Regions from separate parts of the Homo sapiens genome. Here regions 1 and 2 are each linked to region 3. The links come from fine-mapping of genetic effects on gene expression. A gene starts in region 3. Each other region holds a variant in brackets. All regions are shown on one strand. Distances are from middle to middle.

What was found. PIP is the estimated chance that this variant, and not a neighbour inherited with it, causes the effect.
Region 1: its variant is the best candidate, but not a certain one, in a credible set for the expression of CD300E in whole blood (INTERVAL, PIP 0.52).
Region 2: its variant is the best candidate, but not a certain one, in a credible set for the expression of CD300E in whole blood (TwinsUK, PIP 0.53).

What each region holds. Positions count from the first base shown.
Region 1 is chr17:74,594,378-74,598,616 of GRCh38, forward strand. No RefSeq gene overlaps it. Among named protein-coding and RNA genes, the nearest start is that of CD300LD, 4.2 kb to the left of the region's middle. The variant A/G (reference allele first, on the strand shown) is at 1,999.
Region 2 is chr17:74,575,992-74,580,230 of GRCh38, forward strand. CD300LD (CD300 molecule like family member d) reads right to left here. Exons shown (of 4, transcript NM_001115152.2): 4 at 3,374-4,122. The coding sequence ends at 4,011. Among named protein-coding and RNA genes, the nearest start is that of CD300LD-AS1, 6.6 kb to the right of the region's middle. The variant A/C (reference allele first, on the strand shown) is at 2,580.
Region 3 is chr17:74,621,618-74,625,856 of GRCh38, forward strand. CD300E (CD300e molecule) reads right to left here and starts at 2,121. Exons shown (of 4, transcript NM_181449.3): 1 at 1,965-2,121. The coding sequence starts at 2,004. LOC101928343 (a long non-coding RNA gene) reads left to right here. Exons shown (of 4, transcript NR_158152.1): 4 at 3,910-4,239.

The DNA.
Region 1 (4,239 bases), 27 kb before region 3:
TTTGCCTGGGGGTCAGTGCCTGCCTCCAGGCATTTGGGGTATATGTAAAGATGTACATGTTTGGCCGGGCACAGTGGCTCACATCTATAATCCCAGCACTTTGGGGGGTCGAGGCGCGTGGATCACCTGAGGTCAGGAGTTCAAGACCAGCCTGGCCAACATAGTGAAACCCCGTCTCTACCAAAAAATACAAAAATTAGCCCAGCATGGCAGCGCACGCCTGTAATTCCAGCTACTTGGGAGGCTGAGGCAGGAGAATCACTTGAACCTGGGAGGCGGATGTTGCAGTGAGCCGAGATCACACCATTGCACTTCAGCCGGGGTGACAGAGTGAGACTCCATCTCAAAAACAAAACAAAACAAAACAAAAACATGTTTGTGGAACTGCTCCATGAACAAAGCTCCAATTGGGTCCCCAGTCTCCATTCCCACTTCTGACCCACACTCTTCATCACACCTGCTGGCTCTGAGTTCAAAGCCTCCCCTGAGTTTTATCAGGTGGGTCAATTAGAAGTAGGAGTTGCAAAATGCAATTTATTTTATCTGCCCTTTACTCTGAGGGTACACCCAATATGCCCCAGACCACCATACCCCTAATCTTTTGACACGGCAGGCCCCTAAACCAGTGTAGGGTTTATCTCCCAGCCTCTGGAGCACATCCAGTTGCTAGCCTCTTCTTGTTATCAGGTGCAATTAGCATGATGTCATAAACACAGGGGACTACCTTTATGTTCTGGGCAATGGCTGGACGATTCAGGTTTCTTAGAACAATACTACAAGGAGAAGAAAATTAACACAGTCCTGGAACAAGACTGTGAAAGTATACTGTTGTCCATGCCAAGCGAATGCGCCTGCCTCTGTTCCTCCTTCCTGATGGTGGCGGAAAGGATGCTTTTGCCAGATCAACAGTCACACACAACACACCAGGTTATGCTCATCTATTCTAGTAAACCTGTCACTGTTGGCACAGAAGCTGGAAATTTGGCTATTCCTTTAATATGGTGGTGGGTTTGTTGTTGTTTTGTTTTGTTTTGTTTTGTTTTGTTTTGTTTTGTTTTGTTTTGTTTTGGAGACAGGGTCTCACTCTGTTGCCCAAGCTGGAGTGCAGTGGCACAATCATAGCTAGCTCACTGCAGCCTCCAACTCCTGAGCTTCAGTGATCCTCTTGCCTCAGCCGAGTAGCTGACACTACAGTTGTGCAACATTGCACTGGCTAATTTTTTAAAACACTTTTCGGTAAAGAAAGGATCTTGCTCTGTTGCCTAGGCTAGCCTCAATCTCCTGGGCTCAAGTGATCCTCCTGCCTCAGCCTTGCAAAGTGCTGGGATTACAGGTGTGAGCCACCATGCCCAGGCTCTTGGTTTAGTTTTCCCTAGCCCATTGACCTTGGTAAATTAAAGGCAGATCTAGTGGGACCATGCCTTGTTTTCTTTGTCTTGGGGGGTGGCACTGATCTCTGTGTTCCTGGCAGAATGTGATATTGTTTGGGATTTACTATCTTGGCCACAGCAGAGGGACAGCCTCAGCGGCTTCCCCTTGGCCTTCCCCAGTCTGATCACTTTTACCACACAGACCAGAGAGTCAGTATTCATATGCACTGGTTGCTAAGTGTATCCACTTCTATCATTTCTAAAAATCAGGGCAAGAACCACTGGGATGCCTCTCTCATCTCTAGGATCTTGATTTTGCCTCTGGTTCTACTCAGGACTCGCTGCCTGGTCCAAGTGCTCAGCTTGTCTCAGACTGCCCAGTGACTCCACCTGCCCTCTTCCCTTCTGGAATTCTCTCAGCCCCATTGCTCCTATGGAGCTCAGTTATGTAATGGCATCTCCTCCCGTGAGCCTGGCCTACAGAGACAGCCACTGCTGAGCTTCTCCATAATGCTAATGCCCCATCACCAACATAGTTCTTATTTCCCTGGTATTGGAGTATCCTCCAGGGCATCCCAAGGATAACACTCATTAAATACTAATTTAGTGAAACTAGCATATTTTACCT[A/G]AAAACACAATCAAATAATTTCATGTGAGTCTTTTTAAAAACAACCTTGTTTTTTTATAGCAGTTTTAGGCTCACAGCAAAATTGAGCAGGAAGTACAGAGATTTCCCATGTACCTCCTACCCTCACACAGGCACAGCCTCCCCCATTATCAACATCCCCCACCAGAGTGGGACATCTGTTACAATTGGGGAATCTATATTGACACACCATGACCATTTGAAGTCCATGTTTGCATTAGGGTTCAATCTTAGTGTTGCATATTCTATGGGTTTGGACAAATGGATGATGAGAGCATCCTATAGAGTAGGTTCACTGCCTTGAAGATGCTCTGTGTTTCCTTGAGCCTTTTGATCCCTTCTTCCACCCTTCCATGACATCTTTACATCATTGAATGTGGGGTTTTGTTGCTTCTAAGCTTCTCAGGGCCATCCCAGCAGTGTACTAGGACCAGTCTCCCAGCTTTGCAAGTGGTGAGTCCTCCTACATTGCATGGATGAGTACCTCTATGTTGAAAAACCCTTCCTGGCTCAGCACTATAGTCCACTGCCCTGGGATCCACTCTCACACACACTCTTCTAACTGGTTCATGCCAGCGTATATTAGTTCTCCTTTTCCCTTAGCAGCCCAGCGTGTCCCTAGGTGGGCCAGGCTGACACTCAACGTTGGTTATCGGTCAGGAAGAGAAATGAGGGCAGATTCCTCAAGTAGATCCTTAGGGGGCAGCAATGTCTGGTGAGGCATCTGCTTCATTGGAGACCTCAGCATCAACTTCAACAGGGGAGCTGTTACCTTCTAACAAGCATCAGGCCGCTCTGCAGTGGGAGGCTCGAGGGCTCAAATGAATTGTCAAATGTCCCATCTTCAGGTTCCTACTTTTCCCTACAGGAGCCTGACTTGTTGAGGCTAAGGATTGAGTTTTCACTGAAATTTCACTTCTCTTAAACTTAGGTCTTGGCCTGTGTATTAGTCCGTTCTTATGTTGCCAAAAGAGACATACCCGAGGCTGGGTAATTTATAAATGAAAGAGGTTTAATGGACTCACAGTTCCACATGGCTGGAGAGGCCTCACAATCATGGCAGAAGGCAAATGAGGAGCAAAGTCACGTCTTAAATGGCAGCAGGCAAGAGAGCTTGTGCAGGGGAACTCCCCTTTATAAAACCATCAGAACTCATGAGGCTTATTCACTATTGCAAGAACAGTATGGAAAACCCCGCACCCATTATTCAATTACCTCCCACTGGGTCCCTCCTGGTGGGGATTATGGGAGCTACAATTCAAATGAGATTTGGGTGGGGACACAGCCAAACCATATCAGCCTGATCTACGGCACAATTTTTTCTCCAGATAGAGGGAATGGGGATCCCTTCAAAAGCTGCTAAGGAGGGTACCAGAAGCCCGCCAAAGGCATGGTCTAAAATGTTCACAGCACACTATGCATCATGGCCCTGAACTTGAAACTAGCTGAATGCCCATAAATAATACATTTGAAAAAATCATAAAAACAACAAGAAAAGTGTTTCAAATTGTGCACTTTAAATATGTGCAGTTTATTTTATCCCAATTATACCTTAATAAAACTGGGAAGGAAGGAAGGAAGGAAGGAAGGAAGGAAGGAAGGAAGGAAGGAAGGAAGGAAAGAAGGAAGAAAGAAAGTCTGTCTATGGTCCCTGAAGTCCTGCCCCCTCCCATGCGTTCTTGGCTCTAGGCAGCAGCACCAGGGCTCACCAAGACACTCCAAAATCCCAAGAGAAGGTGCAGCTTCAAACATAAACAGAAGGCCCGGATCACACCTGTAATCCCAGCACTTTGGGAGGCCAAGGCAGGCAGATCACTTGAGTCCAGGAGTTCAAGACCAGCCTGGCCAACATGGCAAAACCCCGTCTCTACTAAACATACAAAAATTAGTCTGGTGTGGTGGCACATGCCTGTAGTCCCAGCTACTCGGGAGGCTGAGGCAGGAGAATTGCTTGAACCCAGGAGGCGGAAGTTACAGTGAGCCAAGATCACACCACTGCACTCCAGCCTGGGTGATAGAGCAAGACTCTGTCTCAAAAATAAATAAATAAACAAACATAAACAGATATTGCTCAGGGGCCTCCTCCACTTCCTCCCCAAGAACTGACCCACCACGCCCTCCTCTGCTCCCACTGGCAAAGCTTTCTGCTGCTCTGCCTCTAATCCCCCACCCCTGCAAAGCCCTTTGCAGGTGAAGATATGATGGGCTTTGTCTTAGGAAGGC
Region 2 (4,239 bases), 46 kb before region 3:
GCTACACTCCAGCCTGGGCGACAGATTGAGACTCTGTCTCAAAGAAAAAAAAAAAAGAAAAAGAAAAAGAAAAAGAAAAGAAATTCTACTCAAATAGTGATCTTGTTGGGAAGATGTCCAAGTTAATTCAGTTACAGAGATCAACATCATATATCTTTCATTTCATTAGACTTGTCAACATCTTTCCAAGGAAATTGCTTTTGGATTTGTCATGGATATTCGATTTTGCTTTATTTGTTTGCTATCATTTTTGTAATTAGTTTCTGCTACATTAGACCCTTTATCCATCAATACCACAGTGTTTATTCAAATATATTCCCACTACATGTCTATGAATGTTATTGATTATTGAGTATTGACTAGAGAAAGAATCTCTTATATGGGTAGCAAGAACAGAGAAGTTAGCTTATAGAAAGAATTAAATCAGTAAATTTAGACGCAATTGTGCAAATTAGCTAGTCTTGACAGGAAAGAGAAACTTTGAGATATTCGACAAAATAAGAAAGGAAAATGGCAGAATGAGAATCGATTTGCATTCTTTCAACCATAAGAATGAGGATGTTGATCTGGTTAACTGCCTCTTGCTAGTAGATCTGGGGAGGAATTGGAAAGACAAAGATTGAGGTCGTGAAGGGGAAGAATAAGACAAGTAAAGCACAGTCACGTTGAGCTGCTGGTTTTGGTGACCTATGGCTCCCCGGCGGCTGTGATTGGAGTCTGAAGCTGAGAAGTCATGAGGCTAAATGTCCCGATTGTCTTGCCAAGCTGCTTAGACCTTGCCACTTAGACCTTGTTGCTTAGAAGGAGACACCAGAAACCAGGAACTTGAGGCTGGGATAAAGCAGATGCTTTCTCTCCTGGTGCTCTGGGAAGGGAGTTTGAAGTAATCTAGGCAGCTTGCTGCTTGTGCCTTCATCCTGGCGGGCAAAATCACCTTGAGTGGAGGTAGAACACGTGTATCTGCCAAACTGTGATTCTCTAAGGGCAAGGATTACATCTCTGTTTTTTTGTTTGTTTGTTGGTTTTTGAGACGGAGTCAGGCTAGAGTGCAGTGGCGCCATCTTGGCTCACTGCAAGCTCTGCCTCCCGGGTTCACGCCATTCTCCTGCCTCAGCCTCCCAAGTAGCTGGGACTACAGGCGCCCGCCACCACGTCCTGCTAATTTTTTGTATTTTTAGTAGAGACGGGGTTTCACCGTGTTAGCCAGGATGGTCTTGATCTCCTGACCTCGTGACCCGCCCGCCTCGGCCTCCCAAAGTGCTGGGATTACAGGCGTGAGCCACCGCGCCCGGCCCCCAAAAGGAAACTCTTGATTTGACCTCCTGCAAACTCCCCAGCCTGATCCTCTTCTCATCACAGTAAATTACACCCATGGTCCCCTTTTTCTCAGACCAAACTCCAGTCACCTGGGCAACATCCTTGGCTCATCTTTTGCTCGTGCCCCAGCCATTGTGTTAACCCAAGACCCTCAGATCTGTCCACTTTTCTCCATTGCCCTCCCACCCCCCTCTTTCTCCCTGATTACCACAGGGCCTTCCCTCTTGAACAGGCACAAGAGCTCCCCAGTCTGACTCTTGTCCCTATTCACTGTGGCTAGATTGCACTTTTAAAAACAGTTACCAGAGGCGGGGCGGGTGGATCACCTGAGGTCAGGAGTTTGAGACCAGCCTGATCAATATGTTGAAACCCCGTCTCTGCTAAAAATACAAAAATTAACTGGGCGTGGTGGCATGTGCCTGTATTCCCAGCTACTCGGGAAGCTGAAGCAGGAGAATTGCTTGAAGCCAGGATGCAGAGGTTGCAGTGAGCCAAGATCGCGCCACTGCACTCCCGCCTGGGTGACAGAACGAGGCTCCGTCTCAAAAAAAAAAAAAACAAGCAAACAAAAAAACCAACAATGAATATCATCAATACAAAAACCACCATACTGACAATATTAGTACGGGGAAGAGGATGGTGGGAAAAGAGGAAGATACAGAAGTCCTCATCTTTTGCTGCAGAGAGTCAATAGAAAGATTCAATAATGTTGTTAAAAACAAGATGAGAACGTGGGAGCTCAGAGAGTGTTATGAGTTGGTGGGGTGTCCACACTGGGTGGGGGCTGGGAGCAGCGCTGGTCAGAGCCTGGGCAGCAGACAGGACATGGGTCAGCCCAGAGAGGGGCGGCAGAGCTCATGAAGGGTGAGGCTGGGGGTGGGGGAGTCTGGATAATAACCATGATTTCATCATTTTCTAGCTGAGTGATCCTTTATCTTTGAGCCTGTAGACTGCCTTCACGGCACTTACCCAGGTCTTTTTCTTTATTTCGGTGATAGTTGTACTTGAACAGTGCCTGATACTTAGTGGATGCTTAGTAAATGTTTTCGCTTATTTTTTATTTTTATTTATGTATTTTTTGTGACAGAGTCTCCCTCAATCACCCAGGCTGGAGTGCAGTGGTGCAATCTGGACTTACTGCAACCTCCACCTCCCAGGCTCAAGAGATTCTCATGTCTCAGCCTCCCAAGTAGCTGGGATTATAGGTGTGCGCCACCATACCCAGCTAAGTTTTGTACTTTTAGTAGAGATGGGGTTTCACC[A/C]TGTTGGCCAGGATGGTCTCAAAGTCCTGGCCTCAAGTGATCTACCCACCTCGGCCTCCCAAAGTTCTGGGATTACAGGAGTGAGCCACTGCGCCCAGCATTTTGGAATGAATGATGGTGGGGAGTGAATAAGGGTCTCACCTGGGTACAGAGATTGACCTGACAGAGGGCAGTTGGGTGATCCTGGTTCATGTTCCCAGAAGGGAATTTCTGTTATTTAGCCTCTGTCTTAACCACCAGATGATCCCACTGGGCAGGGGGCTCAGTCATTAGAGTCCAAGACTGAGCACCACCCTGGGGACCCAGGCAGGCGGTACTGAGGACCCAGCCATCCCCAGCTCACAGTTCTAGCTCTGGCATCCAGTTTATGGATTATGTCACAGTCCCCAAAATGTATGGGTGATCTCCCCATATACCCCAAATTGAGAGTAGCAGCCAACTGCAATACTCTTAAAAGAGGTAAGAAAATGTAACAATCAACACTAATAGAAAAGTCTTACAGTGACGAAAGGAGGCTGTGTTTTCCCATCATCTTCAATCGTACTCATCCAGGAATCTCCTGACTTCCCTTCCCCACAAGTGGCAGGAGAGCAGCTGGCACGGCAGCCCGGAAACCTCTGCTCTCTTCTGTACTCATCTTCCCTTAAGTTGGCCCATTACCAGAGTTTGGTTCCGTTTTTCTGTTTTCATGGGTTTAGGATTTTGAAACCCATTATTGACTGGAGACTTGAACCCCACGGAATGCAAAGACAGGTCCGTTAACATTGCATGTGGCTCACAGACCTGAGATCACGAATGTCCACTACGGCATAGGTGCCTCTCGGGGGAAACACATTCTTCTCATGTTTTCTACTGCATTGGAGACCTCAGAAGGAAGAAGGGCTCTGTCAGGCCCCAGGGACTGTGCAGAGAAGGGAATAGCCCCAGGTGGCACGGCTGCAGGAGATAGGGGACTAGGAGGCTGTTCCCTGAAGCTGGGGCCAGCACTGCCTCTAGAACCACAGTCAATTCCCCATAGAAATGTTGTTTTTCTGCCAGGTGCGGTGGCTCACACCTGTAATCCCACCACTTTGGGAGGCGAAGCGGGAGGATCTCTTGAGGTCAAGAGTTCGAGACCAGCCTGGGCAACGTGGTGGAAGCCCATCTCTACAAAAAAATTTAAAAATTAGCTGGGGGTGGTGGCATGTGCCTGTAGCCCCAGCTACTCTGGAGGTTGAGGCAGGAGGATCGCTTGAGCCTGGGAGGGGAAAGTTGCAGTGAGCAGAGATTACACCATTGCATTCCAGCCTGGGTGACAGAGCAAGACTCTATCTCTAGAAAGAAAAAAAGAAGAGAAAAGAAAATGTTTTTTCTTCTGTGGGAGGGCCTTTCGCCCTGGACAGGACGTCAATGGGCATTGGGACTCTCATCATCGGGCTGACTCCTCCTCCTTCAAGACCTTCTTTGTGGTCTGTTTACCCAGAGGACGGTCCCCAGCATGCTCAGGAGCAGAGGCAGCTCCAGGAGGAACAGGAACAGGAAGTGGGTGCTCTTGAGCGGGGACCTGTGGGAACACGGTGACAGGAAATGAGCTGCCTCCTGGGTCAGAGGTCTCAGGTCTTCTCAGCTCTATGCCCAGATCCTGGCTTCCAATGTCTATGTGAGGGTAAGCCTGGAACCC
Region 3 (4,239 bases):
CTAAATATTGGACAGCAATCAGTTCAGAATGGAAATACCAGATGATGTGGCAGAGAGGTCAGCTATTTTGTCACTATTACTAGGTTAGCCTTATTCTTGACACCTCCATGGCCAATGGAAAGAGCTCTGTGGAGGACACAGATCTGGACTTCATTTCCAGCTTGTCTACTTAGTTCTTATGTCATCAGATCTCCCTTCATCATCTTATTTATAAAGTGGAGTCAATGCTATTTGCCCTGCCTGGGTCACAAAACTGCTCAGAGGGTTAAATTCTATCATCTATTTGGAAGTGTTTATAGGTTATAAAAATGTGTAATAAATAGAATTCTAGTTTTGCTCTTTTTAAATTTTTTACTTTTCTTTTTTTGTAGAAATGGGGTCTTGCTATGTTGCCCAGGCTGATCTCAAACTCCTGGGCTGAAGCATTCCTCCTGCTTTGACCTCCCAAAGCACTGGGATTACAGGTGTGAGCCACCTCACTCAACCAACGTTTGCTTATTTTGTATTTGAATTTGCTTCCTTCCTCTTTGTCATTTCCCCTCCCTGCTAGAATTGCCCTTTCCATCTCTCTTTCCCAGTTAAGATTTTCAGAGGGACCTGCGCAGGTCACATTGCGAGTCTGAGGATGGGGAATGAGATAGGGGTGGAAAGAGAGATGGAAAGGGCAAAGAAAAAGGAAGCAAATTCAAATACAAAATGAGCAAACATTGGTTGAGTGCAGTGGCTCATGCCTGTAATCCCAGTGCTTTGGGAGGTCAAGAGAGGAGGATTGCTTGAGCCCACGAGTTTGGGTCCATGTCACCTACCTGGTCTTCTTCCTTTAAATCGCTGTCATTTTCACTCACCCTTCTAGAAAGAATCTTGTCATTACATTGGGCAATTTCTATGTTTTGTGAGGGAACTCAACCATAAAATTCATTCTGCAAACATGAAGAATGTCCTCTAATTTTTAGCCTAAATTTATTTCCCCAGAGACAAATGTGTTTTCCTGCAGTTTTGTATTTTGAATGTCTATTAATAAGAGTTTCTCTTCTGAAGTCCAACCTTTGCAGGACAGTTTCATTTACTTGTTTACACCACACCTTGTTCCGGGAAGGATTTAAGGTAGATGTTGAGGATGGCATTTTTTTTTTTCAGACAGGATCTCAACTCTATCACCCAGGCCAGACTGCTGCAGTGGTGCAATCTCGGCTCACTGCAACCTCCGCCTCCCAAGTTCAAGCGATCCTCCTGCCTCAGCCTCCCTAGTAGCTGGGACTACAGGCATGCATCACCACGCCCAGCTAATTTTTGTATTTTTAGTAGAGACAGGGTTTCACCATGTTGGCCAGGCTGGTCTCAAACTCCTGACCTCAGGTGATCCACCCACCTTGGCCTCCCAAAGTGATGGGATTACAGGCGTGAGCCACCACGCCCAGCCCATTAATTATTTCTCACAAACCATTCCAACCCCTTTACACTAAGCTTCGTCAAAACAGAACTATTGTTAATTCTTGAACTCTCCATGGTCTTTAATGTCCTCACACTTGCACATAAGCTATTCCTTTCCCACTCAGCCAACTCATTCATCCTGCAGGATGGACTTCCAATGAAGCCTCAGTGACATCTCCCACCCTTCCAAGAGCAAAGTGAGGGGTTCCTGTTGCATACTCTCATCACCACATGAATGAGTCTCTACAACAGTAATTTCCACATTGTATTGTAGTTAGTTGACTCCCTCAGTTCAGAAGTTACTCTTAATTACAGCACCCAGAACAGTCCTGGCACATATCTGGTGCTCAGTAAGTGTTTGTAGGATCCGTGGATGAATGATTGAATGTATAGAAGGATGCACAGGTGAATGAACGGATGTATCTTTCCCTTTTCTGTGGACACTTCACCTCTGGTTTGAACCCAGGACAGCTCTTCTACCTACTGTCCTGCCCCCTGCAAAACCAAGTCCCCAAAGCCACAGCCCCACTCACCTGAGAGGCAGAGAAGGAGTAGAGCTGGGAGCAGCCACATGTTCCTGTCTCCTTGGCTTCCGTCCTCAGCAAATCTAGGTCCCAGCTGGAATCCAAGTATATGTAACGGAGCCTGGGTCATCCACTTTCTACTTGTCCAAGTTTCCTTTGTGTTCTCACTCATCTATTTCCTCTTTTGCCTTTTAAAGAATGCTTCCTAATTTTAAGCCTTACTTAGCAGAAGAGAAAGGGTGGCAAGAGACGTTTCTGAGAATGGACCAAGCACAAACAGGAAAATCTGTTGGCCTTCATTTAATGTGAACGTAATGTTTGAGTCACCCCCTGAGATTTCATGACTCGGAATTTCATGAAAGTCAGTCCCAGTTTACGAAACCTCTCCAACAGAGAAAACTCTGTTCCCTGCCTCTTTCACTCTTCTTCCTATCTGGGATTACTTCATCGATCTAAGGAGCTTCCCTTCTCTATGGCTGCCTACTTTTGAATCATAAAACACCCTCTACTTAAGGAGCTGTGGTGATCACTCCCCATGTCTTTCTCAACCGTTATCTCCATGCGGATGACTTCACACCTCTTCCTCTAACCCAATATCCCAATATCTCTCCTGGGCTCCAGATCCTACTTTCTAACTTCCTATAGGGAAGCTCCACCTGGTTATACACTGTTAACCTAGTTCAGTATATGGGTCATGGTCAACAGCATAGATTCTGAAGTCACACAAACTCAAATCTCATCTCCATCATTTATTAATCATCTGACCTTGGGCATGTTGCCAAATCACTCTCCTCCTCAGTCTCCTCATCTGTAAAATAGAGTACTCATGACAATTCTTTCTCAAAGGGTTGCCACAGGAAATAAATGAGTTAATGTAAGTAAAGTGCTTGATACAGTGCCTGGAACATAGTAACTGCCCAGTTAATATTAAATACCTTTAGAATAGTCCTGGACCATTGAAATAGCTTCTCATCTGGTCCCTCCACTAGCTATACATTCTCTCTAATCCAACTTGCACATCAGAAGATACTCTTCTCTAAGACATAGCTATCTGAAAATATAATTTCTTTCCTTCTCTTTCCCCAGAGATACCCATCTTTGATACCCACAGCCTCTAATCTTTACTATCTTTTAGAACTCTACTGGATCATCTGATATTTCAAACTTTTGTTGTAAGAGCACAACTTCTTATCTTTTCTGTACCACCATATCTGATGAAGTATTATATAGCCAGGCATGGTGGCACGTGCCTGTAATCCCAGCTACTTGGGAGGCCAAGGCAGGAGAATCACTTGAACCCAGGAGGTGGAGGTTGCAAAGCAATGAGCCAAGATCACACCATTGCACTCCAGCCTGGCAACAGAGAGAGACTCCATCTAAAAAAAAAAGAAAGAAAGATGAAAGAAAGAAAGAAAAAGAAAGAAAGAAAGATAGATAGATTATATATAGAATAGAGCCCTGGATGGAACAATAAAACACCAGGACCCTGGTCCCATGTGTGACATGAGCCACACACTTGAGGGATCCAGAATGAGCAGAGCTGACAGTAGCCACAACATTGTGTCTTAGTCCATTTTCTTCTACTATAACAGAATACTACAGGCTAGCTAATTTATAAAGAACAAAAGTTGGCAGGTGCAGTGGCTCATGCCTGTAATCCTAGCACTTTGGGAGGCCGAGGCACGTAGATCACTTGAGGTCAGGAGTTTCAGACCAGCCTGGCCAACATAGCAAAACCCTGTCTCTAACAAAAATACAGAAATTAGCCCTGCATGGTGGTATGAGCCTGTAGTCCCAGCTACTCAGGAGGCTGAGGTGGGAGAATTGCTTGAACCCAGGAGACGAAAGTTGCAGTGAGCCAAGATCACGCCACTGCATTTCAGCCTGGGCGACAGAGAGAAACTCTGTCTCAAATAATAATAATAAAAAAGAACAAATTTGTTCACCTTCCTAGCTTTCTGAAGATGAGAAGTCCAAGAGCATCGTAGTGGCATCTGACAAGCGTCATTCCATGGCAGAAGACAAGACAGCAGGCAAGCCTCCTAGACAGAGAGAAAAAGGGGACTGAACTCAGCCTCTCAGGAAACCACTCTCACAATAACTAACCCACTCCGGAGATAACAGCATTAATCCACTCGGAGGACTGAGCTCTCATGGCCTAATCACCTCTTAAAGACCTCACATCCCAATGCCATTACATTGACAGTTAAGTTTCAACACGAGTTTCTGAGGGAACATTCAAACCATAGCAACCCTTGTGCCATTTATTCAGCAGAGACAACAG